4 separate regions of the Homo sapiens genome follow, and regions 1, 2 and 4 are each linked to region 3. Evidence: fine-mapped expression QTL. A gene starts in region 3. Each other region holds a variant in brackets. All regions are shown on one strand. Distances are between the middles of the regions. Region 1 overlaps TNFRSF1B (TNF receptor superfamily member 1B). Region 2 overlaps TNFRSF8 (TNF receptor superfamily member 8). Region 3 holds the start of TNFRSF1B (TNF receptor superfamily member 1B). Region 4 overlaps TNFRSF1B (TNF receptor superfamily member 1B).

Region 1 (7,890 bases), 44 kb before region 3:
CCTCCTGAGTAGCTGGGACCACAGGCGCATGCCACCATGCCCAGCTCATTTTCATAGAGACGGAGTCTTGCTATGTTGTCCAGGATGGTCTCGAACTTCTGAACTCAAGCGATCCACCCACCTCGGCTTCCCAAAGTTCTGGGATTACAGGCGTGAGCCATCATGCCTGGCCTAGAACTCTTCATTTCAAAAAACTGAAACTCTGCACCCATTAAACACTGACTCCCCATTCCCTCTTCTCCCAGCTTCTGGCAACCAACACCCTACTTTCCATCTCTATGAATCCTACTACTCCAGGTACCTCATGTACGGGAAACATACAGAATTTGTCCTTTTGTGACTGGCTTATTTCACTTAGTATAAGGGACAAGGGATCCTTGTCCTCAAGGCATCCGTGTTGCAGCACGTGTCAGAATTTCCTTCCTTTTTAAGGTTGAATATTCCATTGTACACCACTTTTTTTTTTTTTTTTTTTTTGAGATGAAGTCTCACTCTGTCACCCAGGCTGGAGTGCAGTGGCGCGACCTCGGCTCACTGCAACCTCCGCCTCCTGGGTTCAAGTGATTCTCCTGTCTCAGCCTCCTGAGTAGCTGGGACTACAGGCGTGTGTCACCACGCCAGGCTCATTTTTGTATTTTTAGTAGAGATGGGGTTTCACCATGTTGGCCAGGTTGGTCTCGAACTCCTGACCTCAGGTGATCCACCTGCCTCAGCCCTGCAAAGTGCTGGGATTACAGGTGTGAGCCACTGCACCCAGCCTGTAGATCACATTTTGTTTATCCATTCCACCTTTTGGACACCTAGGTTGTTTCCACCTTTTGGCTATTATGAACAGGGAGCACTGCTGTACAAATATCTGTTTGAGACTCTGTTTTCAGTTCTTTAGGGTACACACCCAGAAGCGGAGTTGCTGGATCAGATGGTAATTCTATGTTCCATGTTTTGAGTCGCTGTCACACTGTATCCCATAGCAGTTGGACCACTGTGCACTCTCCTCAGCGACGCACAAGGTTTTCCATCTCTCCACATTTTCACCAACACTTACTAATTTCTGGGTTTTTGATAGTAGTTGTCCTAATGGGTGTGAGGTTGTTTCACAAATGGGAGGAACCTCAGGGTGTCTATATGCAAACAGGAAAGATCCAGGAGCCAGAGAAATTGATGCTGAAGGAAAGAGACAGGAGACTCACTGAAGCAATGTCCTTGAGCCAGGAGAGATGCTAAGATCCCGTGCAGGGGAGGCGCTGTCCTCAGACCCAGTCACGGCAAAGGCCAGGGTTGTGGGCACAGATGCAGGGTGAGAGGGCAGATGTGGTGGGGCAAGCATGAAGCATTCTCTTGTGTTTTATTTTCTCGGTGAAATAGACAGCAAGGTAACCAACTGAAGGTAAGGGTGGGGTGAGGACAGAGGCTTGGGGATAAAGGAGAACACATGAAATAGTCCATCTAGAAGAGTGGGGTAAGGTGTGGTGGCTCATCCCTATAATCCCAGCACTTTGGGAAGCCAAGGTGGGAGGATCACTTGAGCCCAGGAGTTTCAGGCTGCATTGAGCTGTGATTGCGCTACTGCCCTCCAGCCTGGGTCACAGAGTGGTACTCAGTCTCAAACAAAAACCTCAATTAATCCTTTTATTTAAAAGATAAAATAGGCCAGGCGCAGTGGCTCACACCTGTAATCCCAACACTCTGGGAGGCTGAGGTGGGTGCATCACCTGTCAGGAGTTTAAGACCAGCCTGGCCAACATGGCGAAACCCCTTCTCTACCAAAAATACAAAAATTAGCTGGGCGTGGTGGTGTCACCTATAATCCCAGCTACTCGGGAGGCTGAGGCAGGAGAATCGCTTGAACCCGGGAGGCAGAGCTTGCAGTGAGCCGAGATCGCACCACTGCACTCCAGCCTGGGTGACAGAGCGAGACTCCATCTCAAAAAATAAATAAATAAATAAATAAAATTAAAAGATAAATAGAAAGAGTGGGAGACTGAGTGAATAGGAGCTGGTAGGCTGCATAACCAATGGTTGTCTTTGCCCCTGCAAAGACATTGATGTCTGAATTCCTGAAACCTGGCCAAGATGCTAAGACGAGGAGAGTGTCCTGGATTTTCTGGGTGGTCCGTTGTAATTACAGGTGTCCCTACACTTGGGAGGCAAAGGGAGATCTGACTTCTGAAGAGATTCCGTTGCTATCTCTGAAGATGGACGAAGGGGCCATAAGTCAAGGAATGCAGGTACCGCTGGAAGCTGAAGGCAAGGAATCAGATTCTCCCCTAAAGCCTCCAAGAACAAATTCCCCATTTGAGCCTAGCAGGCCTGGCAACACCTTGCTTTTATACTTCTGGCTCCCAGAGCTGTAGGAGAATGAAATTGTATTGTTTTAAGCCACTGAGTTTGTGTGGTTTGTTATAGCAACAACAGGAACTAATATATCGGGGAGGGGACCTGTTGTCACTGCTGGGCAGCACCAAGGACCCCCATAGAATTTATTCTTTTTTTCCATCCCCCAGGCTGGAGTGCAGTGGCAAGATCTCAGCTCACAACAACCTCCGCCTCCTGGGCTCAAGCAATCCTCCCACTTCAACCTCATGGGTAGCTGGGATTCCAGGTACGTGCCACCGCACCCAGCTAGTTTCTGTATTTTTCTGTGGAGATGAGGTTTCACCATGTTGCCCCAGGCTGGTCTTGAACTCCTGAGCTCAAGCAGTCTGCCCACCTCAGCCTCCCAAAGTGCTGGGATTACAGGCATAAGCCACTGTGCCCAGCCAAGTCTAATGATCATGAAATGAAAACGCGACCAGCCAGCATGGTGGAAGGCCATCATCCTGCCCCAGCCAGGTGCAGACGTGCAGGTGTGGCACAGGCAGAGAGCTGGGTTCAACCAGAGAGAGAACAACAAACCAGGAGAAAGTGCCGTGGGTGCGTACAAGGGAGAAAACGTAACCAACAGCTGCAGGTGCCACTGAGGGAGAAAGACAGGAGGAAGTAGGGGTGGGGGGAAGTGGGATGCTTGAAATTGAGATTAGCGTGCAGTTATCAGTAATGCCAGGCTCTAAGGCACTGGCATGGGCACACCCCGAAGGCCACATCCGCCTCCTGCCCATTCTTTCATGTCCTGTGCACAGCTGTTTTCACACTTCAACAGCACAGGTGAGTGGTTGTTGCAGAAACTGTAAGGCCTGCCAAGTGTAAAATATTGATTCTGGTCAGGCGCAATGGCTCACACCTGTAATCCCAGCAGTTCAGGAGGCCCAGGCCGGTGGATCACTTGAGCCCAGGAGTTCGAGACCAGCCTGGGCAACACAGGGAAACCCAAAAAATAAAAATAAAAAAATTTAAAATTTAGCTCGGCATAGTGGTCCATGCCTGTAGTCCTAGCTGCTCAAGAGGCTGCGACTGGAGGTCAGGGCTGCAGTGAGCCACGATCACATTTCAGCTTGGGTAACAGAGTGAGACCTTGTCTCAAAAAATTAAAATAAATTTGCTCCCTGGCTCTTTATGGAATAAGTGTGGGGAGCCTTGGTCAAGGGTTGAGTGACTGAGACAGGCTGGAGGACAGGACCATGGAGGAGAGGAGGGCGAGAAGCCAGGAGGCGGGGCGTTCCATCAATCACAGATCCTATAATCACCAAGAATGAAAATGGTCCCACTGAGGGAGTCACAGGAGCTGGAGTGACGATGGTGACCCAGGGGGTCAGTGGAACCAATACACAGGCCAAGGTCTCTCTCCCCTCCAAGGCTTTCTTCTAATTAATTGATTTTATTTATTTATTTTATTTGGAGACAGACTCTTACTCTGTCACCCAGGCTGGAGTGCAGTGGCCCGATCTCAGCTCACTGCAACCTCTGTTGCCTTGATTCAAGCAATTCTCGTGCCTCGGCCTCCTGACTAGCTGGGATTATAGGTGCATACCGTCATGCCCAGCTAATTTTTTGTATTTTTGGTAGAGATGGGGTTTCACCATGCTGGCCAGGCTAAGGCCTTTAAACTCAGAACTCCTTTTGCCTGACAGTTCCCTGCAATCCTTTGTTCTGGAAAACTGCTGCTCATCCCTCAGGAGGAGGTCAGAGGTCATCTCCAGAACCCTGTTCTAACCTCCTACCTGGGCCCAGGGATGTCCTCTGGGCCCCCAAAACCCTGTACTGGTCTGAGTATCCCAGGGGCAACCACTCTCCCCGAGTGGGGTCCCCAGGAGGGCAGAGCCTGGCTGCCTAGGCTGCTAGGGATCTGCAGAGACCCCATCCCGGTCCTGAGAGCAGGCCCAGGAGACCTGGAGGATGAAGGCATGAGACCAGGGCACACTTGGAACCCAGCCAGCTGTGTGGTCCCGAGCAGGAAGTTCTCTTATGGTTCACAGGCTTGAGGGGGCGGCTGTAACAGGGGTCCCTCTGTGGTCCAGTCACAACAGGGGCCAGCCAGACTCCAGGGACCGTGACGCCATCTCCCCTTACACAGGGGTGGCAGACAAGTAGGAGCATGGACAAACCCAAGCCCAGACCCCAGGCAGAGCCAGGGGTCGACGTGTAAAACAAACAGGTTTATTGATAAGCAGGAATGCCGTCCAGCATACAGTGCAAACTTTCATTGTCTTGGGATCAACACACACACACAAGGGAACCAAGGCCCCACAGAGTCTCCAAATTCATCGCTTCCCGGCTCTGCCCTGTGATGCCAAGGAAGCCTGAGGTTCTCCCAGGACTGTCCACCAGGGGGCAGGTGCGCTCCATCATGTCCTCATGTGGGTCCAATGTGGGCAGAAACCTGGCCAGTCCCAGCAGTCTGACTTTTTTTTTCTTTAAGAGACAGGGTCTCACTCTGTTGCTCAGGCTGGAGTGTAGTGGCGCGATCATAGCTCGCTGCAGCCTCAAACTCCTGGGCTCCAGTGATCCTCCCCTCAGCCTCCTGAGTACAGGTGCACGTCACTGCAGCCAGCCAGTCTGACATCTTGATTCCAGGGTGGAAAACCCTTCTTGTCTCCATGGTAATGGCTGGGCTCTCCCACCCTCCAATAGTTCAGCTGCCAAGCTCAAGTCCAGTGGAATTTATCAACAATTTATCACCCTGCCCCTGCTCTGCTAGACAATTTCATGCCTTCTCCTTTATCCCCATGCTCCTGAGACTGAGCCTTTCCAGGAGCCCCTCAACCTGCTTCCTCCCAGAATCCGGGCAAGGCTACACTGGTTTCCCCTCTGCAGGGCCCTGGCCCTGGGAGGGGGAAGGCTGACTCTAATGGGGAGGAATCCCAGCTTCAGTGGCTTCAAGGCAGGCCATTCAACTTACCGACCTTGGCTACACACACCCACGACACGCAACACAGACGCAGACACAAGACTGGCACTTGGGATCACACTGGCCATGTACCAAAGTGGCAGGGCAGCCCGTTTGGGGCCCAGGAATTGAAGGTGGGGAGTGGGGAAGAGGAACCCACCCCTCTGGGGGAGGAGGAGGGTCTAGGCTGAGGTAGGAGTAGAGAGATGGCTACGAGGACTCAGTCATCTCTAGTTCCTGAAATTCCCTGAAAGGAGATGGTGTGGCCTAGGACAGCAAGGAAGGAGGCGCGGGGCTGCAGGCACACCGGAGTGAAGGCGGAGGGTGCAAATGGCAGGTGGGGGGTTGGATGTGGCTGGCAGAGTTTGGCTTTGTCGTTGGCTTGTTGGCCTGAGTGGTACTTACTTTTTTAAAAAATTGGCAGATTTCTAGTTAGAAGTGCGTTATCTTGCCCAGGCCACAGCACTGAATATGGTGGCCTGCCTGGGCCCTCTGGGCATCTGACTTTCACACCATGGTACAAAAGGACAAGTT[G/A]GCATTTGGAGGCGGTGCTTTTTTTTTTCTTTTGAGACAGACTCTCGCTCTGTCGCCCAGGCTGGAGTGCAGTGGCGTGATCTCGGCTCCCTGCAACCTCCGCTTCCCGGGTTCAAACGATTTCCCAGCCTCAGGCTTCTGAGTAGCTGGGACTATAGGTGCCCGCCACCACGCCCGGCTAATTTCTGTATTTTTAGTAGAGATGGGGTTTTACCATGTTGGCCAGGCTGGTCTCGAACTCCTAACCTCAGGTGATCCACCCGCCTCAGCCTCCCAAAGTGCTGGGATCATAGGCGTGAGCCACTGCACCTGGCCTGAGGTGATGCTTTCCAAGCCTCCTGAGCTAACTTGAAGGACCCCGTTCCCTACAGGGCTGCCACCTCCTCCCTGCACAGAGCCCCAGGACCATCCCGCAGTCTCAGCCTCAGGCTGAAGCACTGTCCTGTCTTCATGGGTGACTCAGGCAGCATCCCTCCTCTCCAGAAAGCCCCTCTGCAGAAAAGGATGCTGGGGTTTTCTGGAAGCCAGAGCTGGGGCAGAGCCCAGGGGGAGAAACAAACAAACAAACAAACAAACAAACAAAAAACCCAAGGGCTCCAGAAGCCAGGCTGGCAGGTGCAGCTGGGCGGGGCAGGTCACAGAGAGTCAGGGACTTGCCCCAGCATGCCCCGAACGTCCATGCCCAGCCAGCCTTCCGAGAGGGACACGCCATGGCAGCAGAGGCTTTCCACAACTCGCTGCCTCTGCTCTTGGCCTGCAGGTCAGAGGGAGGCTGCGGCTGTGGAGGGCACTAGAGGAACTTGGCCCAGAAAGAGCCTCAGAGTCCTAGTGGTGGGGGCCTGGAAGGACCAGGGCCCCTTCGCAGGGTCATCCTGCCAGGGCTCAGCCCACCTTGGCTACGACACAGCCCACACCGGCCTGGTTAACTGGGCTTCATCCCAGCATCAGGCACTCCAAGGGGCAGGGGCTTCTCTTCGGTGCTCCCCAGCAGGGTCTCTGGCGTCTCCAGCTGTGACCGAAAGGCACATTCCTCCTTGGAGAAGGGGACCTGCTCGTCCTTCGGGGACTCCGAGGGGCTGGAATCTGTGTCTCCCATTGTGGAGCTGGCTTGGGAGGAGCACTGTGAGCTGTGGTCAGAGCTGCTACAGACGTTCACGATGCAGGTGACATTGACCTGGGTCCCATGGCCACCAGGGGAAGAATCTGCTAAGCACAAGATGGGGTGGGGGTCAGTCCGGGGGTCCAGGAGTGGGGCCCAGGGACCCCTGCCCAAGATGCAGATTCAGACACATGGGAAAGAGCACTGGGCCAGGAGCCGAGACCAAGATTCTAGCCCAGCTCTGCTGTGTGACCTTGAGCAAGTCACTTAACCTGCATGTGCCTCATTTTCCCCTCTGCCGAATAAGAATAGCATCACTACCTACCCAGCCCCAATCACCCCAGAGATGGGAGGAGCCAATTATATAAAACAGATGTCTACTTGGGAGGCCAAGTTTGTAGGATCGCTTGAGCCCAGGAGTTCAAGACCAGACTGGGCAACATAGTGAGACCCTGTCTCTTCTGTCTTTTTTTTTTTTTTTTTTGAGACAGGGTCTCAAAAGAGTGCTGTGTCACTCCCTCAACTCACTGTGACCTCTGCCTCCCGGCCTCAAGTGATCCTCCCACATCAGCCTCCTGAATAGCTGGGACTACAGGCCACCGCACCCTGCTAATTTTTTGTAGAGACAGGGTTTCGCCAGGTTGCCTGGGTTGGTCTCGAACACCTGACCTCAAAGAATCTGCCTACCTCAGCCTCGCAAAGCGCTGAGATTACAGGTGTGAGCCACCGTGCTCAGCCTCCAACTTAACTCTTGATTCTACTCCCATCTCGCATCCAAAACCTCTCCTGCTCATCACAGTTCCCATTGCTGCCATCCACCCAGCTGCTTGGGCCCAGAGCCTCGGACCCATCTTTCTCTCATATCACACACCCATCCATCATTCCTGCCTTGTCTCCCTTCAAAAGATGACTTCTGGACCAGGCAGGGTGGCTCACGCCTGTAATCCCAGCACTTTGGGAGGCCAAGGCAGGTGGATCGCCTGAGGTCAGGAGT
Region 2 (8,029 bases), 21 kb after region 3:
AAAATCAGCCTCTATTCTATCTCTCAGTTGTGGTGACTTGAAGATGAAAGGAAACTTATCTAGAAGGCATAGTGCCAGGGGATGACCACGATATGAACACAACCCCTGACCACAGAGGCAGCCAGGCCACCTGGGCATGGGGAGGGATTTAGAATCACAAAGTTGGGGGTTGAACTCCAGCTCTGGGACTTCCCAGCTGTGTGGCAGTGGGCCAGTTGCTTCGCTCCCCCCCACTCCCCGAGCCTCAGTTTGTAAAAGGGAGTGCTGCCACCCAGCCTATCTACTGTCCAGGGTTCTATTAGGAAGCCCAGATGTACAAAGAATGCGGCCTAGGCGAACTCTCAGCTCTTAAGATGCTGCTCTTGATGGCTGTCATTTACTGAACATGGCATACGTGCCCAGACTGGACTTCCACAGTCCCTCTCAGCCTTATAGTTCCTTTTCTTTTTTTTTTTGAAGACAGAGTCTCGTTCTGTCACCCAGGCTGGAGTGCAGTGGCACGATCTCGGCTCACTGCAACCTCCGCCTCCCAGGTTCAAGCAATTCTCCCACCTTAGCCTCCCAAGTAGCTGGGATCACAGGCATATGCCACCATGCCTGGCTACTTTTTGTATTTTTAGTCGAGACGGGGTTTTGCCATGTTGCCCGGGCTGGTCTCGAACTCCTGACCTCAAGTGACCCACTCACCTCGGCCTCCCAAAGTGCTGGGATTGCAGGCGTGAGCCACCGCATCTGGCCCCATTAGGTCCATTTTGCAGACCAGAAAACCCACATTGAACGCACATAAGGGCTTTGCTTGGGACCAAGCAGCTGGGAGCTTGTCGAGCCGGAAGCCACAGCTCCATGCCACCGTCATGAAATGGCCACTGCCTCCATGAGGGCTAAAGGGTAAAAAGCACAGGCCACCGCTGACCCTGTGATACTGAAATGATCCCTCTGCCTCATGACCGGGAAAACAATCACCACACCAAAACACAAACAAAGGCCTCCAGGCTTCCCAGGGTTTTTCAGTTTGGTTTTTACTCTCTGGAAGATACCCAGAGAAAGGGGGAAGCTAGACCGGCAGACTCCTAACCCTACCCATAGCTACAATCATCACCAGGAATGCTGTCTTAGTTCTTTCTGAGAAAACCCATCTAACTGCTTCCTGGCTGCCAGCAGCTGCTGCCTGTTTCCCCAACTTCCCTCCAAAATAGGTTAAAACAACCTTTGCCGCCCCTGGTTTGGCCTTTCTCACTGATTGCTGAAATAATACCAGGATGTTTATTGTTCTACTAGGAAGAAAACAGAAAGAAACATAGACCAGTACTTTTATGATAAAATCTAGGTGCCTAATCACAATGGCCCACCAGGCCCTCCTCCCCAGGCCTTCCCCCCTCACCTCCTTTTTTCCCTCGCCCACCGTGCCTCTTCCACCACTGTGTTCTTCCTGAAACTCGAGGCAGGAGTGTGCCCACTTCAGCTCCCTGCCTTCCAGACCTCGCTGGCTTGTGACATCACTCAGGCCAAGTTCAAAGGGCACCTTCTCAAAGAGGCTTGCCCTGACCACCTAGCTAGTGGTGGCCCTCCCCTCCCACTCTGCCACAGTACCTGGCTCAGACTCCTTGTGGTTCACAGCGTGATCTGACTCTGGAATGACCTTGTGTACTGATTTGATGACGCCACCGTCTGTCCCGTCCACCAGACACAGGACCCACGAGAGCAAGTCTGTGCCCCACTAGTCCTCAGCAGCTAGACCCTTTAATTGAGGAAAGCCCTCGAACAGTAATGTGGTGCAATCTGGAATGTGCTAGAACCACGAGTGAGATGTCCCTCCGGAGGGACCCGCAGCACTTCGCCGACATGCCCAGAGTTACAGACGTCGAATAATGAGCCAGTCCTATGACTGTGATCTGAAGGGTTCTTGGGGTAGCCCACAGAACAAGAAGAGGCCTGCCCACTGCGGGGCTTCCCACAGCAAGTTGGCCCCAAGGGTGGCTAGGTTCCCAGGCTGGCCTGAAAGCTCTGATTAACCTTGATGGGCTGAATTCTGCAGACATAGGAAGGGCTCGCTCTTGACAAGCGGCCACCAGGCTGGAATAAGGACAGAACCTGCCACTCAGCACAAGCCACACACCGAGTGGCATGTCAGGGAAGCCCCACAACCCCGTCAGGTAGAGACTGACACCCCCATTTCACAGACAAGAAAACTGAGTCTGAAAGAGATCATGGAACATAGCCAAGCTCATGCAACTGATAAATGGCAGAGCTGGGATTCGAGCCTGTGTGTGACCCCGCAGCGCCATCACCATCCGCACGCTGCTGTTGTGTCTGAGCTGCAGAGAATGGCAGGCAAGCCTCTCTGCCCTGTGCCTGGCTCACACCCATGGCCCCAACATTGAACACCTGCTCCCCTGGGTCAGCCAGGGGCAAGGGTTCCAGGGTGTTTGGCCAGCATGGGGTGCTGGCTTAGGAGGAGGTGCCTGGCAGAGGGGCCTGGTGGAGGGTGCAGGGGCCTGAGGTGTCCTCAGCAGCTTCTCCTTCAGCCCAAGGAGCCCCCCTTGAAGCTGAACAGTCTCGCCTTGACTAAGCTTTTCTCTTGGGCCGTGGCTGTGAATCTGATGTCCCCACATATTCTGGCCCAAGCAACCCCCACCCCACACTTGCCCCCCCACTGCAGAGGATCGAGGAAGTGGGGGGAAGAGAGAAGGCACCCGAGGAACTGTGGCTGGAGAGCCGCCTCTCATCCCCACACAGGTTTTCATTTCTACTTAGCCCAACCAATCAGTGCCCAGTGACCATGGGACAAAGATGACCAAGACCCAGCCTTGGGTCTTTTACACCTCACTGTTGGAGGGTGAGGTCGTGATGGAGCGAGAGACGCTCTAGGGAGGTCCCCTCGTTCCGTTTTAGGGACTGACCCGAGCCGTGGAGATTCTGTGAACTGTAGAATGGTTTTTACCACCTACAAAAGTGCCTTGGGAAACAATGGCTTTTCTTTGAAGGCAACAGCTTCCATCTGATACTTACCACTTGCTGTCCCTCTCTGATCGCAAATGTTTAGGAAGAGGTGTGTGGGGGTGTCGTCACAGCCTGAGAATTGCTACCTTGAGTAGCAGGGAGCTCTGTCCATCTGCCAACCTGGACGTGAGCACAGCCAGAGAATAGAAGGGGTCCGCTCATCGCTGGGCAGGATGGGGAAATCCACCCTGGCTCCTGGACTGAGTGCATGGCTGGTTCAATGGCTGGGCTGATGTGTGGGTGTGGGCTGGAGTCTTGGGGATGGGGTGGACAGGGTCTGTCTGTGGCTGTGGGTGTTCTCCACCTCGCACAGGAGACAGTCAGAGGAGGCCTCAGGCTGGCTGCCTGGGGTGGAGGCTGGCCCTAAAGTGCCACAAAGCTGTGCCCAGGGAGGCAGGCTGGGCTCCTCCCAGCTCAGACACTGAAGCCCAACACTCCCAGATACCTGTGGTCCTCACCCTGCCTCCCAGGGATCCCAGATACCTGTGGTCCTCCCCCTGCCTCCCAGGGCTTGGGCACTCACGCTGTTCCTTGGAGAATCCCTTCTCCAAAGCTATGGGGCTGCCCGGCCCAGCCCAGAGGGAGGAAGGCCATGGGGAGGCCCAGAAACCTTTCTTCGAATACCTAAAGGGAGCCTTGTGACAACAGTGGCATTTTTTTTTTTTTTTTTTTGAGACGGAGTCTCATTCTTGTCACCCAGGCTGGAGTGCAGTGGCACGATCTCGGCTCACTGCTGCAACCTCCACCTCCCAGGTTCAAGCGATTCTCCTGCCTCAGCCTCCTGAGTAGCTGGGATTACAGGTGCCCGCCACCACACCCGACTAATTTTTATATTTTTAGCAGAGACGGGGTTTTACCATGTTGGCCAGGCTAGTCTTGAACTCCTGACCTCAGGTGATCCACTCGCCTCGGCCTCCCAGTGTGCTGGGATTACAGGGGTGAGGCACCGCAACTGGCCGACAGTGGCTTTGAGTGTCCTCAAAGGGCAGCCTTTGGACCAGGGAGCGGCAATTACATGGAGAAAGAATTTGCCTCGAGTGATAAGGAAAATCTTCCAGCAACAAGAAGGACTGCCCCAGCAGGAAGTGGGCTCCCGGCCCCAGAAGTATCCAATCTACCAGAGACTGGCCACCTTAGTGCCTGGGGGTTCAGTGGGAATTCCTGCCCTGCTGGGAGACTCCCAAAGCCACTTCTGCTCAGGGGTTCTATTAATAACATACTCTCAATTTCGATGATCATGTCCTCAGCCTTACAGTTCTTTAAGGATTTTATGGATTTTTAGAGATTCAAAAGTTGTGTGAAGGGCCACTAGGTAAGGAAGTGCATTATTTTGTTGAAACATGTCAATCCCTCCCATCATGGGCGCCAGACTGCCCTGCCTGGCAGGCGTGTGCCTTCCAGCGTGCCTTACAGCTGCGGCTGTGGGTGATGCAGAGACACCCACTCCATCCTTGCACAAACACTGGGCAAACAGTGTCTGCCCACTTAAGCTTCTTCTGGCCAATGTCCAGGTTCTGGTGTAACCACCTCTCGCAAGGCCACGGCTTCTCCAACTTTCCCCAAAACATCTGAGCGGTTTCAGAAACTATCACTTCCTCCAGAGAGCACGTGGCTGCCCGATGAGTAAACAGCAGCCTTCCC[G/A]GGCCTGCCTCCAGGCGGTAAGTCCACGAGTCTCCAGGCTGCCCGCAACTCCAAGACTCATCCTTATCCATCACTCATTTGCATACACGTCTGAAGGCCCTAGGGAGTCAGCTGGCCAGCCGACCGGAAGTCAGGGCCACTACTCCTTAGCGTGAAATGTGAAAAACCCAAAATCCTGATGAAACCTCCAAACGGTCTTGTTTCCTATGGTCCAGAGTAAAGCAGATGCCTGGGTGAGGCCGTGGTGCCTCTCGACATCCACACCCCAAAGCGTGCAGAGCCGGAACCAGGTGGTGGGGTCGGTGCTAGTGGATTTGCAAGCAGGGCAGACCTAAGGAAGATGCTTCTTCATTTCCCAGGACAGAGTGGGTGGGGCCCACAGAGAGCGGTCAAGGACTCCAGGCAGGGCCCGAAGTTCCCCATGTTCACATGGGGAGGAAGTCCCTGGGCAAAGTAAAGCAGGTTCTCTGGGTTGGTGAGGGGCGGTCTGCAGCTGCTGAGGGCTGCAGACATCTGGGACCCGAGGCGCCTGCTGTGGCGGGGATTGGTGGGGACATTCTGAGATGAGTGACTTGATCCTGGGCCCTAGGCCCTGGGCCCACCGAGGGGGCTACAGGACAGGGAAGGTGGGCAGCACCAGGAGGGTCCCACAGTCCAGGCAGGGGCCCTCACACCAGTGCAGAGTACAGTGTGGCCGCTGCAGCAGAGACAGTGCCAGCTGACGACGCCCCATCCCTCGACTTCCCTTTTGACTCTGGAGAAACAACCACAGGCACTGGCTCCATGCCCACTGGGGGCCACATTTACAGTAACTGGGGGCATGCCGGAAGGGCCCAATGGGTGTCACCTCTGAGGTCCAGGGAGAGAGGAGAGTAGGGTTACAGGGGCCCCGGGAGCTGGCCTCACGACCTCTCCCTCGCTGGGCTGTGGGCCTGGTGGTTAAGGTCTGATGCCCAGGGCTCTGGGACCAATGCTGTTCTCGGCAGTGCCCATCCTGCCATCTGTTTGCTGCCTCAACCAACATCACTGCTGGGATCCAGTCCCCTTGGACTGTCTCTTCTGTACAAGCCCCGGATCCCCTAGGCTCTGGGTCAGGGGACAGCTAAGTTGGGGATGCAAGCAGAGACCACCAGACCCCTGCAGTGACCGGCCGGTCCACCACTAGATGCTGGAGCCTCAGTTCAGGCCAGATGGGCCTCTGCCCCCAACCTCGGTGCCAACAGTGCCATCCTGGCCTCCCAGAGGCCACCCTGCTGCCCTCCTAGCCCCAGCCCAGCCCAGGCCTCACTTTCCAGAGGCAGCTGTGGGCAAGGGGTCTTCTTTCCCTTCCTCTTCCACTGAGAGCATGACATCGCTGCAGCTGCCCAGAGGCGGTTCTGTCTCCTGCTCGGGGTAGTGGGGGGTATGGTCCGCCTCCAGCTCCTCCTCCAACTCGGGCTCTGCTGGCCCCGCCAGGCCCCGGCCCTCCGGCAGCTCAGCCTTCACGGTCCCCACGATCACGGTGTCAGCCTTCATGATGTAGATTTTCTCTGCAAGGCAAAAGGATGGGTGAGCGAGGGAGGCCAGAGCACCAGCCAGGATGGGAGCAAAGAGGCAGAGAAGGGCCGAGGCCCAGTGCTGGTACACCTGCCGGGTGGCTTCAGGCTGATGGCACAGCCTCTCTGATGTACCTTACAGGCATCCTGGGGGCTCAGAGGAAATAGAACAGCTAGGAGCTGGGCCTTGAGGAGTTAAGAACCAGCCCACTTGTACTTAGGATTTTCTCAGCACATCTCTGCGGATGGGTAGGGAAGAAGAGGACAGGGTGGGACAGAAAGCAAACTGTGGACAAAAACAGGCAAAGCCGTGGGTAACCAGAGCACGAGCAGAAACAGCAGAGCTGAGCAGTTTCCACACCCCCACTCCTGGGTCCCCAGCCCTCCTGCAAGGCGGACCCCATCAAGATTCCCATTTACAGGTAAGAATCTGAAGCCTGGAGAGGTTAAATGACCTGCCCAAGGTCGCCACGTAGTTAGGAGAAATCCCCCAAAAAAAAACCACCCACTCCGCCTGGTGGCCCTTTCTGCTCCTATCTGTGTGCCTGCAGCCAAAACCCGGGGTGACCAACTTGTCCAGCTTGCCCGGGAACATTCCTGGTTCTACTACTGCAAGTCCCGTGTCCTGGGAGTCCCCTCGGTCCGGGCAAACTCAGCCAGCCTGTCACATCCTGCAGAAAACCCGGCCCCCTCAATAGGTCTCGGCAGCCCATGATTGAGACAGCCTGGCTCAGGCCGTGAATTTCGGGGCTTACTGCTCACAGCCGGTCTCCTGCCTGCAGCGTGCATGGCTGTGCTGTGAGCACATGGTGGGAGCTTGGACGGAGGGCCGGTCCTCGCCACAGTCTGATGTGGGGGCTTCTGGTGTGGCCTTCTGATAGAGGGGACATGGGGGCTCAGGTTCAGTGGCCCGAGGAGCTGGGGAGTGGGGAAGCCTGGCCTCCGCCCAGCTGATGGTGTCTGGCTCAGGGTGGGCTGGCTCCCAGCTGTTCTGCGCTGGACTCTGGAGGCCAGAATGGGGAAGCTCAAGAGGGAACTTGAGAGCTGGGGTGGGGTGGGGGTGCAGGGACCCCTGCCTTTCTGGGTAATGCAGTTATACCCCTCGGATTCAGGAACCCCAAAAAGGTTCTCGAGTCCCCCACACCCTCAACCCTATTGCATGACGCTGGTTCTTCTATTCTGGTTTTGAACACCCCCAGGAAAGAGAGAAGTGCGCCAAACGGCAGCAAGAGGAGAAGGCCCAGAGTGCGGGACAGGCTATGGGCTGGGCGCCCCCACAGACCCCAAAACAGAGCAGGGCCTCAGCACTCCCCACACCTCCATCAGGCTTGTGGGCTCCCAGCCCTAGGAGCCCTATAGAGGGCTGGGCAAAAGATGGGGGCCGGGGGTGGTGAGAGAGGAGACCCCAGGAGGGGAGAGAAGGCCCAGAGGGGGATGGGCAGAGAAGATGAGAGGCGGGTGGGGTCAGGTGGGAGGGAAGTGAGGGTGGGGGTGCTGGATTAGGGAGAAGGAGCCACAGCTGGGGACAGGCTGGTCCCCTCACATTCCTCAGGGAAATGGGCAGGAGTCCCCAGGAAATCTGGAATTAACTGGATTCAAAGCGGTGGAATTGGCTGCTCTGGGTGAGGAAGCAGCTCCCACTGAGCTCGGAAGTGAAAGAGGGGTCTGGAAACTTCAGAGCCGGCCATGAGGGGTCTGCCCCGCTCTGGCTCTGCCCCCATCACAGGCTGCCTACTCCCCAGGCTGTGGGGGTGGCTTCCAAGGGCTGCATGGATTTCCTGCCCCCTCCCCAGAGCTCCAGAGTCCAGGGAATTCATCTTGGCTATGTGGGGAGGGCAGGTGAGGAAGTTGGG
Region 3 (7,671 bases):
AGAATGCAATCTGTCCTCAAAGGGAACAAAAGGGCCTGGGAGTTCGAAGAGAAGATCAAATCCAACTGAGAATGCGGAAAGGCTTTCCTGGAGAGAATGGCATTTGCAGAAGGCCTTGAAGGATAGGGGTAAGAAGTGTCCCTTGGAGAGGGGATGGCACGGACAATGCTTTTTGCACAATGACACACACGATGACCATCATCAGTTCTACAGAGGCGGGGGAGCACATGTGCAGGGAGGCGCGAGGAAGAGTTCAGGTACCTTACTCTGGCCTGGGATCTCCAGGGGAGTTTCTGCCTCAACCATTGGGAGCCACAGGAGGCTCCCCAGGCAAACAGAGAGGTGCCTCATGCTTGAGAAGGGTCTCTCTGCCAAGGATCAGCGGGAGAGGGGGCAGGGCCGGGAGACCAGCTACAAGGCTGCGGCAATAGTCCGGGTGGGGTCGTGGGGAGCAGGGATGAGGGAGGAGGGAATATGAGCTGCCGCAGGAGCTGGTCAGGAAGGGAAGGAAGTGGGAGGGAACCTCCTCCAGCTACTCCAGGACTGCAGCCTGGTGTCCTGCTGAGCCCTGTGCCTGACACCCCTCTCCCATCCAGGGGCTCACATGACCCCAGAGTTCACCCAGGCAGGCCCAAGCTCAGCGGCAGGAAGACCCCCTCTGAGGCCAGAGTATATGGCATGACCCCAAAGTCAAGCTGGGGACCACGGTCGTCCCCATTCACACTCGGCCCTAGAGTGGGGACTCTCCTGACCCAAAGGCCACCCAGGACTTACTCTGGGGCAGTTCTCCAGGACCCACTCCTGACACCCACTGTCGGTGAGTCAATTCTAGTCTGACAGCCCCCATCTTCCACCCACAAGAACTGGACTCTCTGGCCTCAGATCAACAAGTCACCTTATGTCACCACAGAAGCCAGTGCCACCTCCCACCTTCCTCCTCGGTCAAGATGTCAGATGGGGGCAGATGGGCCATGTGTCCATCAGGGGCGGCTCTGAGGAAGGATGAACGCCCACCTTCCCCGCAGCCTCAGGGCACAGGGGCCGAAGGCAGGAGAGGCCCCCTTTGGAGGAAGAGTTCCCCCCAGACCCTTCCATGAAATACAAGTTCTCTGAGCCTCAGTTTTCCTTCTCTAAAAAATGGTTTATCTTATCTTACCAAACCATGGAGACAGTAAAACAAAAATGGGGTTATCCTATGTTACCAGACCAGGAGACAGTCAAAAACAGGCAAAGGGTGCACAGTCCCTTGTACGCCCGTTGCTACTGTGGGAGTGACGTTCATATTGAATAGGAGCCCTAGGGTTTCTGCTGTCTCCATTTTCCTGCGGCCCCCGGAGACTTCATTTGCCTTGCTCGATTACCAGCCCAGACCTCCCTCGCTTGCCCTGTCCCCAGAGGCCGCAGAAAACAGACTCTGCAGTAGCCCCCGGACGCATCGGAGGAAGCAGACAGGCAGCTCGCCCTCCAGCTGTGCCCTCAGTGGACCTGACACACACCTGGTCCTGCTCTTCAGACACAGGACCCTGGTATTTCTAAGAAATCGGAAAACCGTCGCCCAGAGGAAAAGGAAGTCTTTTGAAGAGGGTGCCCGGCGTGGGCAGTGGGGCAGCGCCCCGGCACAGCCCCTTCTCCACCGCGTGGGAGGGAAGGGCTGTCGCGGCAGTCGCCGGGGTGAGGGAAGAGGGGTCCCGGGTCTAGCGGGGGTCTGCCCAGGACCCGCTGCTCAGCCCCAAATGCCCCGGCCTGCGCTCGCGGAGGAACCAGGGTGCGCCCCTGTCACGACGCGGGTAAGAGGGGCTTCGGGGGCCAGAGTTGTGCCCCGAGCGCACGTGTGCCGGGCCCGGAGTCCCCAGCGGGTCCCCAGAGGCGCGCGTGTCTGATGCGGATGGGGGGCGGCGACTGGGACTCCCAGCCTCCCAGCCCGTGACAGCGCCCCGGGAGAGCGCGGCCCGGGCACCCGAAGGCTGCGCACCAGCCGGGTGGACATGCGGGGCGGCTGTCCCCCGTGGGCCGCGCGAGTCACCCACCTGGGCGGGCAAGGCGTGCGCCGCAGCCCAGAGCTCCAGTCCGACGGCCAGCGCGGCCCAGACGGCGACGGGCGCCATGGGTGCGGGCGGGGTCCGGTTGCCCCCTGCCCTCGCGCCCTCGCGCCCTCGCAGCCCAGCGCCTTCTCTCCAGGCTCCGCTGCGCTCGCTAGCCCTCGACTGAAAGCGAAAGCCCGCGCCCCAGCGGGCCAGAGGCCAGGCGGCGGGGCGGGGCGGGGCCAGCCGGCCTTGGACACGCCTCCCCCACGCCCCTCCCCAGACGCTGCTGGGCCTCCGACCCGACCACTCCAGCATCGCTGGGCCGATACCTCCAGCGTCACTCCCAGCACTCGGGTGACCCCTCAACCTCCTCCTATCGTCCCCTCCTCTTCGAATCACCATCTCCACCTGCCCGGCCTCCACCTGCCCGGCCTCCACCTGCCCTCCCAGCTCCCACAGGCTTCCCTGTCCCGTGAGGGTGAGGCACTAATTTGGAAAAACATCCCCCAAAGCTGACAGCTGCTTTAGGGGAACCAAGAGAATTCTAGATCATTCACTTATTTAGACTCTATTTTAAATATATTTAATTCTTATTTTTTAATTTTTTTTGAGACAAGGTCTCACTCTTTCACCCATAGCTCACTGCAGCCTCCAACTCCTGCGCTCAAGCGATCCTCCCACCTCAGCCTCCCGAGTAGCTGGGACTACAGGCTCGGGCCACCATGCTAGGCTGATTTCTTTATAGAGATGGGGTTTCGCCATGTTGTCCAGGCTGGTCTCGAACTCCTGAGCTCACGTGTTCTTCCCACCCTCAAGTGATCTTCCCGCCTCTGGCCTCCCAAGGTGCTGGGATTATAGGTGTGAGCCACTGCACTCGGCCTGTTTAGACTCTAGAGCCAGACCACCTGGGTCTGGATCTCTGAACTGACCTCATAGGACTATTCTAAAAATTTAAAGATATGTAATATACATAATGCAGTCTGTACTTTATATATACTTAAGTAAGTATCTACATATATAACAATAGGCATTTATAAATCTTGGCTGTTGTTACTACTCTTCGCGTGTTCATTTATCCTTAAACACGCATCCAGCCTTCTCACAGGGAGAAGACTCTGCACTTCCCTGCTCAAGTCTCCTGCCCAGGCAGGGGGCAGATGAACAGAGGCTGGGAGAGAATGTCACCAGGGAAGCTGCAGGGCCCTGAGGGGCTGCTGAGACCAGGCCCAGGAGAGCTGGCTTCCCCAGGATTTACATCATGACCGAGCACCCATTCCAGCTGCAATCTGTCCCCCCATCCCCACTTTGAGTGCCAGCCCTAATACAGGGCCAGCCCTGCGGGGCCAGAGCACATTCCTCCAGCCCTGGATTACGGGGGTCCTAGCCCCCAGCACATAGGGCATTTCTAAGGGTTGGGGTGGGCTGGGTGGCAGGAGGCTATTCTGTTCCCTGTTTCCTCACTGCAGGCTGCCTGAAGAGGTACAGAGACCCTTGCTCCCGGCCACCAGCCCCACAGTGGAGCCTGCAAGGATGGTGCTTCTAGGTGCTGAGTGCTGAGTGAGAAACTGGGAAGTGACTCCCTGGGGATGGAAAACCCCACCTCCTGACCAGGAGGCTGGGAAATCACCTGGTTTCCACATGTTTCTGTGACATGGACCACGCTGAGGGTGTGGCTGGTATGACCCACAGCCTTAACTCTGCAGAGCCGCTGGACAGACATGCAGAGCTCTTCTGGCCCTTATGAGAATGCCTAGGAGCAGCTCCAAGGACTCCTTGATCCCTAAAATAGAGCTGAAGGCAGGAGGGAGATGTCACCTCGTGGAAGCAGGGGACAATAGTTCTCTCTAGTTGTCCCCCACACACCTCAAGACCAATGGGACCAACAGACTGTCTGCACCCCCAACCCTCAACAACCGGCTCCTCCTGCCAGTTTCCCTATCCCAGTGAATGGCACCATCACCTCCTGAAGGTGGGGATCCTCCCAGGCTTAGGTCCCATCCTGGGAACGAATTCAAGCTTAATCTCTATGCAACATGGGGCTTCTCCCCTTCTCCAGGCCGACCCAGGCTTGAGAGCAGGCGACTTCTCTCTGAACTCTGCCAAGTGCAGTTCTTGACTCCAGGGTCAGGCCCAGGGGTGAGGGTTTGGGAAGGAAAGGGCACAGTGTTCCATGGCAGCCAAAGTTGTCACCCATCTGGCACTGGGGACTTTGGGGACAGTTTCCAGCTCATTCTCTCTGGGGCTCTAGTGCAGGTTTCTTGGAGACCTTCTTACTGACTCCACTGGCCACAGCTCCCCAGCACCTGAAATGCCTGCACCTCCTGCTGGCCACAATTCACCACCTCCCCTTCAGCTCCTACAGGATGGTGTCCTCCTGGCTTCTCCTGCTGAGGCCGCCTTACCTACTAGGAAGCACTTTGGGATGGAGATGGTCAGGCTGGCCTCCTCGCTGGGGTCCATGGTTGCCTGCCCTTTGCTGCGCACCAATAGCAGCCCAGCTAACTCTCCGTGCACCCTGGCTCACTCCAGCAATGCTGGCTCAGGTCCATCCAGCCACAGGCTCCTTTATTAAGCACCTACTGTGTGCCAGCCCTGGAGTGCTGGGGACTCAGCAGTGGACAAAATAGACAAGAATCTTCCACCTGTGTTATGGTCCTTAAACTCCTGGGATATGAAGCCCCCAGATGGCTCCCTCGTATCCCCTCCTGCTTGGCCCAAGGTAAGAGGAAGTGCCCTCTCCGCTCCAAAGGGCAGCAGGGGGCACTCAGCCCAATGGTGACTCCTTCCCCAAAATCCTCTCTCTTGGCTTCTCCAACCCCACATCTTATTTAGGCTGGAGGTGGCGATGGCCAGTTCTGGCTGAACCAGTTTGTCTCTCCACATGACCTGCACACGTGGTCCGGGACTTTTTCTTCAGTGTGGGTGGGGGGGGGATTGATCTTGACACTCACCATATTGTACCTGCCACTGGGGAATATGGTAAAACTCAGGGACAGCAGAGGCAGTGTGGAGGGCCTGGACTCTCTCCTTCTGCCCCACAGCCCAGCCCTGGCTCTATCTCCCACCCATGATGCTCTGGGCCTCCCGATGAGGCTCTGGCCTTCAGGCTCTGTCCCCGAATCTGCCTTTCCGTGGAGTGGTCAGGCCCAGCCCTGCAAAGCATTAGCCACTCATGCCACTCTCCTAGCCCAGGATTTCTCAACCCAGAGGTCATTTTACCCCCTCTCCCTCCCCAGCACATTTGGCAATGTCTGGAGACATTTTGGGTGGTCGCAGCTGCAGGGGGCAGGGAGAGGTGCTGCTGGCATCTCACAGGTAGAGGCCAGGATTCTGCCAAACATCCCACAACGCTCAGGACAGCCTCATCCACAGAGAATTATCCAGCCCAAAACGTCCAGAACGCCAAGGTTGAGAAGCAACCTAGCCCATGGCTCTCCATGGCCTTTAGAACTGATTTCAGCCTCCTCCACAAGACACTGGAGGCCTTCATGTCCTGGCCCAGCTGGCCCACCAGGCAGAGCCCCACCACGAACCCCAGCTCTACAGGCCAACTCCCTGGGCATTCGGAGCAACCCTGAGTTCCCACCTCCATGCTTTTGTCCATGCAGGTTCCTCTGCCTGAGGTGTGTTTTCCTCTTTGTTTGTTTGGTGATCACCTACTTGTCCTTCCAGTCACAGCTCCACTCGTGCTCTCCTGTGAAACCACCCTTGACCACACCCCAGCAAGCTGGGCAGGATAACATGGTACGTCTACAGACTATTAGCATAACACTTACTCCGGTATTAGTTGCTTACACGGCCCTCGCCTCTCTTAGTAATTGTGATACTAGCGGTTATGGAAAGATGACTTACACACTTTATCTTGCACCAGGTGGGGGGCAAGCTTTATGGTATGCTTATCCAGCTAATACGGGGTACAGCGGGTTCAAACCTGGTTTGGTGGCCTCTCCATAGCCAAGGGGCTCTTCTCAGCATGGAGCTCTCACACTGCTGAACTGTGTGATACCCGAGGGTAGGGGGACTTGCTCTTGGTTCCCTCTATTTCCCTTGATTGAGTCCCTTCTTGTGCATCTCCTGTATGTTCTGGCCCAGGAGATACCTAACGGGGGGCTTGATAAAGTTGAAGTGAATAAGGACCAAATACAGGATGAAGGGTACGCAGGAGGCGATGAAGGGATGAAGACTTGAGAGAATGAATGAATGAATGAATGAATGGGTACATGGATGTCCGGGTCAAGGCTCAGGAACCCAGTCCAGCCCAATCACTCCTAGGCCCTGTATACCCAACCCAGACTCCCAAGCCATGCATCTGGTAGACTCCCAGCCCCACAGCGCAGAAAAGTCCCCATTTGCTCCTTGTTGACAACACAGTCTTCAAGCAGAGATGGAACTGTGGCCCTCAGGTCCTCAACTCAGGGGCTGCATGTGCAGAATCTGAGCTCTTGGCCAGACACTCCCTGGAGCCTCTCCTCACTTCCCAGCTCAGTCTACAGCCCTCAGAGGTCCCCTGACATCTCCCACCCCAGTAGGTGGATGACTGCACTCCTGCAAGCGAGGGTGGAAGAAGGCAGGGCCACGGGCAGGCCACGTGTGCGAGGACAGCCGGTCTGTCCACTGACAGTTATTGAACACCTACTGTGTACCGGGCATTCTAGTGGATCTTTTGGAGGAGTGGCTTTCCAGCTTCAACCAGCATAAGAATCATCTGGAAGGCTTGTGAAACATGCAGAGTCCTGGGCCCCACGCCCATGTCTGTTGAGGGCCTAATATCTGGCTTTTTAATGGACTCCTCAGTGACTGAGGGGCACCTGCTGAGAAACCGTACAGAGGGTTGAGGTGCAGCAGGTGCTGTGTGTGGCTGAGGGCAGTTTGGAAGGCTGAGCTGTGGTTGTGCTGGGAGGGGCTCTTTCCACCATGGGGAGGTCTCCATGCAATATTCTTTTTGGAGTGAGCTTTCAGAGCCAGCCACAAAGCCAACTCCTTCTGACCTGGCCTCAGGGTCCCAGTGGGAATCTATCTTACAGGGTTGCTTGGACAGCGGGAACCCTACTCCTTCCCTGCTTAAGGCTGGCCCACAGCCAGGGCAAGTAACCTTTTCTTGTCCCTCAGTCCTGCTTATCTCAGCGCCCTGAATGTGCCGGGCCAGCCCCTTGATGACTCATGTCCTAAAATCACGAACAGGAAGCAGCATTTGGTGTTAGCCACAGCTCTACAACTGCCTGCTTCATCTGGCCCTCCTACCGGTCCTCCTCCCTTCCCTGGGGCCACATCTTGGGCTGAGCTGGCCATACCATGCTGTGGGCTGGGGGCACCGAGAAACACCAGCTCTTGTCCCCATCTCCTTCCAAAGAAGAGGAGGGCCTGGGGGTGCAGCACCCCCTCTCTCCCAGTACTCAAAGAGGACCACAGGCAATTTGGGGAAGGAAGCCAAGAGAGCCTCCAGGCCTCCTTCTCCCCTTGCTTCACTAAAACCTCCCTGTTCTGAGTGGCCTCTTCCCAGGACTCAACGCCAGAATCAGTCCCAGACCTTCTGGAGAAGACCCTTGGTTTCTAAACCCAGCAAGTGGGACTAGCTAAGTCTCAGGAATCCCCATTCTAGCCCCCTTCCTGTGTGACCTTGGGCTAGTGCCTACCCCTCTCTGGGCTT
Region 4 (5,000 bases), 30 kb before region 3:
GGCTAATTTTTTTTATTTTTAGTAGAGATGGGGTTTCACTGTGTTAGCCAGGATGGTCTCGATCTCCTGACCTCGTGATCCGCCCCCCTCGGCCTCCCAAAGTGCTGGGATTACAGGCGTGAGCCATGGCGCCCGGCCACATGTTGGTGTTTTCTAAACAAAGGAACGCCACTGTCTCCCATGCCCTGGACGTTCTTTCTGTGGCAGGAGGAGCAGGTGGGTGCTGAGTCCACACTCTAAGCCCAGCAGCCCAGCTCAAGAGGACTCTCCACTGGCCTCTTATCAGGAGTAGCTGCTGGTTGAGGAGTAGCGTGGGACACAGGCATAAACCTGATTCAAACCTGGGCTATGCCACTCACCTAATGATCTAATCCTACAGGAAAAATGGAACCTCCCAGAGTCTCAGTTTCCTCCTCTGTAAAATGGGGGTGATGATGCTCCCTGCCCCACAGGGATGCGTGGGGACTCAGTCACAAAGAGCCTGGCAGGGCTCAGCCAGGGCTGTGCTGGGATAAGCTCAGGCCTGTGCAGATTTCCTCCCAACTCCATATTCAGGAAGGTCTTGGGAGTTGGAAACTGGCTACAGTGTGAGTGTTTATACCACAGAAATTAGCAAACACCACAAATCAGGGTTTGGGGGTTTTTTTCTGCACTAGACACACCACTGGGGCACTCAACAGATACTTGAGTCACTCACATTCAGTGAACACTGAGAGCAACAGTGAAAGGAAAGGGGCCAGGCGTGGTGGCTTATGCCTCTCATCCCAGTACTTTGGGAGACCGAGGTGGGCAGATCACTTGAGGTCAGGGGTTTGAGACCAGCCTGGCCAACATGGCAAAACCCCGTCTCTACTAAAAATATAAAAATTAGCCAGGCATGGTGGCGCATGCCCATAGTCCCATCTACTTGGGAGGCTGAGGTGGGATGACCACTCGAACCCGGGAGGCGGAGGCTGCAGTGAGCCAAGAGGGCGCCACTGCACTGCAGCCTGGGCGACATAGCTGTCTCAAAAAAAAAAAAAGAAAGAAAGAAAAAAAAAATGGAAAAGGGAAGCAGAGGCTGCTAGGCCACACCCAGGACATCTTCAGTGCACAGAGGATTGGGAAACGCTTGGTGGGGAAAGGGAAGGTGACAGCTGGGCTGCTGCGGAAGAGCTTGGGGGAGACACCTGCTCTACGCACGCCACCAGGCGGCAACCGTCAGTGTCACTGAATTGAAGCTGGAGAAAGGGAGCAGTGAAACTCGCTCGCCGGGGAATGAGAAAATTTCCTCCCCACTGAAATACTGTAGGGCAGGGCAAAGAGCACTGAGATGGGAGTCCAGAGACACACTGCGGTGCGACCTTGAGCAACTCAGTTTTCCTCCCTGCATCTCTTTTCTTGTCACCAAAATCAGGGGATGAAATCAATCTATCTGATTCCAAACACCTGGTGTAAGCTTCGGGTATTGGGCTGCCCAGGGCTGAGCTGTTCCCTCGAGCAGTGGTTCTCCACTAGGGGTGATTTTGCCCTCCAGGGGACACTTGGTGATGTCTGGAGAATTTTTGATTGTCACCACTGGAGTGGGAATGAGGCTGGCATGTAAGTAAATAAAGACCAAAGATGCTGCTGAATAGCACGGGACAGCCCCCACAACTAAGTAAGATATTTTATTTATTTATTTTATTTTATTTTTTCTTTTGAGATGGAGTCTTGCTCTATTGCCCAGGCTGGAGAGCAGTGGTGTGATCTCAGCTCATTGCAACCTCCACTGCCCGGGTTCAAGCGACTCTCCTGCCTCAGCCTCCCGAGTAGCTGAGACTACAGGCACGTGCCACCACGCCTGGCTAATTTTTCTGTTTTTAGTAGAGATGGGGTTTTACCATGATGGCCAGACTAGTCTTGAACTCCTGACCTCAAGTGATCCATCTACCTCGGCCTTCCAAAGTGCTGGGATTACAGGAGTGAGCCACCGTGCCCAGCCAAGATCCTTTTTAAAAATATTTATTTTATTTAATTTTGTTTAGGGATAGGGTCTCACTGTGTTTCCCAGGCTGGTCTTGAACTCCTAGACTCAAGCAATCCTCCCACCTTGGCCTCCCTTAAGTAAGATGTTGTCTCAAATATCCATGAGGTTGAGAAGTTCTTTCTCTACCTGCCCCTGAGGTCGAGAAAACTCATCAGACTCTGTTTTCTCATCTGTCAAATTGGGTAAAAAACCTGCCCTGCCTACCAGGTGCAAGGCTGTGACAGACGTATGTTCTGGCTCACCCCATACCCACTTCCAACCCCCCTCCCTTGTCCTCCTCCTCCATAGAGGCTGGAAAAGCAAAACACCCTCTTTCCCAGCTTCCCTCGCAGCTAGGGGTGGTCATGTGACACTGTCTGGTCAGTGAGATGAAAGAAGTCTACCCAGGGCTTCTGGGAAGGCATCCGATTTACTGATAAGGGCACCATGGCTGACCTGGCCACCTGCCCCTTCTTCCCACCTCAAACTTAGAGGTGACATATGAAGTGATGATTACCATCTTATGACATGAGGCCACAAACAAGAGAACAAAAGTCAACACACTAAAGATGACAGAGCCTGGGGTCCTGCTGGCACCATGCAAGGGGATAGTGGAGGCCATTCCAGCAGACACCAACCCCTTGACTTCTTACAATGCAAGAAAAATAAAGCCATTTTTTCTAAAGTCACC[T/G]GTAGGTTTGGGGTTACTTGCAGCCAAATGCCTTCCTGATGGAGAATGAATGAAATACTATGATATGACACACTGTTGGTCTGTCTCTAACAAAAAGCCTTCGCAGGCCCTACTTTATAAAACAGATCAAAGGTGAGTTGCTTTGGGAGGACCCAGGGCCCAGCCCCACAGCCTCTACCTCAAACCTGAGAGATGACCACTTCCCCCACGCCCAAGGGCCCTCTGTGGGACACTGGGCTATCCCAGAATTCAGTTTGAAAACCACTGCTCTCTGAGAAAGTGCTCTGTAAACACAATGGAGGCAAGGAGAAACATCATTGTCAGCTGACCGAATGGCACCACCCTGCAGGCTGGATCGAGCAGACACAACCCCCATCTCATGGTAAGGAAGTAGCCATAGAGCAATTTCACATCTGCCCAAGGTTGCGCTGTGGGTCCACGACCACGTGCCTGCCACGAACGCCACGAAGGCATCTGCTCTCTGCCGGAGCATTTCACACTCACAGCCTCTCTTAGCCCATGGAGGGCTGCCTGACTCCCCGGCCTTTCCTCCACCTCCCAGGGCTCTGCACACCTCCTGACACTGGACAGACCAATGACAGAATTCACTGCTTCCTCTGTGACAGCCCAGCACGCCGGGAAGGAGACCAGGGGAAGAGGGGGAGAGGGCAGTGGAGACACTCACCACCTTGGCTTCTCTCTGCAGGCACAAGGGCTTCTCTATAAAGAGGAGAGGGGACAAGTAAGAGATTGACTTCCTCAGGCACATCTGTCCTAAGTAGGAGGGCAGTATGGGGCCCCATAGAACCAGCAGAGAGGCCCAGCCCTGTGGGGACCAATCGCCTACCAGACAAGGTCCACAGAAGCCCCCACCCAACTCCACCTGCCACCATCCCAACCATTCTCCAGTCCCCCATCTATACCATCCGCGCCTCCACTGAGGATGCGTGTCCTTCCCTGCACAGACTCCACCCATCAAGATCTTACCCAGCTCAGAGACCACCTGCTGCAGGAAGCCCGAATCCCCCAGGCTTCCTGGATAGGAATCCTGAACTCCTCCTACCCTTTAGAAAACCCTGATCACCTCTTGCCTTTTAGTAATTAAGTTAGCAGAGGTACCTTCACCCCAGGCCTTAAGCTCCTACAGAACAAGGACCCCCATATCCAGCTCTGTCTGACCCCTAAGGCTGTGCCCAGTGCTGGACTCACAGGAGGCACCCCACAAAAGCTTCCTGAACAAGTGGATGAAGGAAGGAAGGATGGACTCTTACTTTTCACCTGGGTCATGATGACACAGTTCACCACTCCTATTATTAGTAGACCCAAGGCTGTCACACCCACAATCAGTCCTAGAAAGAAAAGAGAAGCTCAGACAGCTACAGAAAACAAACTCAAATGTACCAGGGGCCAGCCAGGCAAGCCAGGGACCCAAGGTGCTTCGGGTCATTGCAAATGAGGGGCGAGTCTAGGCCGGAGATTCTCAAATCCAATTACAAAGCAATCATGTCTGTGTGCCTCATTCAGCCTAAGGGCCACTAGTTTGAGACCTCTGGCCTGATGCAGTTCTACCCCAGAATGGAAGCCCCTGGAGGTGACCTGGCCCAGCCCGCTGTCTTCTTAGCCTAATGGGCTCATCAGAAACAGCAGCAAGGAGACCATCTGCATATTCAGGTGAATTGCTGACCCCACCTCTCCCCTATCCAGGGGTTTTGTTTGGTTTTGTTTTGTTTTTGAGATAGGACCTCACTCATTGCCCAGGCTGGAGTGCAGTGGCACGATCAGAGCTCAATGCAGCCTCAAATTCCTGGGCTCATGTGATCCTCCCACCTCAGCCTCCTGAGTAGCTGGGACAATAGGCACCATCCCACCCAAATAATTTTTTAATTTTTTTATAGAGATGGAGTCTCGCTGTGTTACCCAGACTGACCTCAAACTCTTAGCCTCAAGCAATCCTCCAGCCTCCTTGGCCTCCCAAAGCACTGGGATTACAGGCTTGAGCCACTGCATCCAGCCCACGCACTTAGGGATTTTGAATGATAGCACCAGGTGTGGGGAGAAAGCAGTCTCACTGCCACCTGTATCCCAGGACAGGGCACAGGGTCCAGCCCCCCGTGGGCTCTCAGTAAAACCATGGGAGAGGAAGAAAGAGAGACAGAAAGACAGGCAGACAGAAGGAGTGAATGAATGAGACTTCTTGCGACTTACCAACTGGAAGAGCGAAGTCGCCAGTGCTCCCTTCAGCTGGGGGGCTGGGGCCCATTGGGAGCAGGAAGGAGGTGCTTGGAGCAGTGCTGGGTTCTGGAGTTGGCTGCGTGTGTTGGG

What was found. PIP is the estimated chance that this variant, and not a neighbour inherited with it, causes the effect.
Region 1: its variant is fine-mapped to the expression of TNFRSF1B in whole blood (TOPMed, PIP above 0.99).
Region 2: its variant is fine-mapped to the expression of TNFRSF1B in whole blood (TOPMed, PIP above 0.99).
Region 4: its variant is fine-mapped to the expression of TNFRSF1B in whole blood (INTERVAL, PIP 0.94).

The regions. Positions count from the first base shown.
Region 1 is chr1:12,205,850-12,213,739 of GRCh38, reverse strand. TNFRSF1B (TNF receptor superfamily member 1B) reads right to left here. Exons shown (of 10, transcript NM_001066.3): 10 at 4,520-7,000. The coding sequence ends at 6,720. Among named protein-coding and RNA genes, the nearest start is that of MIR4632, 18 kb to the right of the region's middle. RefSeq lists a silencer at 3,182-3,261 and an enhancer at 6,250-6,750. The variant G/A (reference allele first, on the strand shown) is at 5,798.
Region 2 is chr1:12,140,428-12,148,456 of GRCh38, reverse strand. TNFRSF8 (TNF receptor superfamily member 8) reads right to left here. Exons shown (of 15, transcript NM_001243.5): 15 at 4,250-6,170. The coding sequence ends at 5,926. Among named protein-coding and RNA genes, the nearest start is that of MIR7846, 23 kb to the left of the region's middle. RefSeq lists enhancers at 1-35, 1,889-1,968, 3,049-3,108, 3,169-3,258. The variant G/A (reference allele first, on the strand shown) is at 4,642.
Region 3 is chr1:12,161,526-12,169,196 of GRCh38, reverse strand. It overlaps TNFRSF1B (TNF receptor superfamily member 1B), which reads right to left and starts at 2,206. Exons shown (of 10, transcript NM_001066.3): 1 at 2,028-2,206. The coding sequence starts at 2,105. It overlaps MIR7846 (microRNA 7846), which reads right to left and starts at 2,254; the gene lies at 2,159-2,254. RefSeq lists enhancers at 1,139-1,780, 5,587-5,686, 6,027-6,126, 6,556-6,685, 7,196-7,335 and 2 more and silencers at 1,821-2,050, 2,061-2,370.
Region 4 is chr1:12,192,982-12,197,981 of GRCh38, reverse strand. TNFRSF1B (TNF receptor superfamily member 1B) reads right to left here. Exons shown (of 10, transcript NM_001066.3): 6 at 4,884-5,000; 7 at 3,950-4,027; 8 at 3,364-3,398. Among named protein-coding and RNA genes, the nearest start is that of MIR4632, 3.8 kb to the right of the region's middle. The variant T/G (reference allele first, on the strand shown) is at 2,679.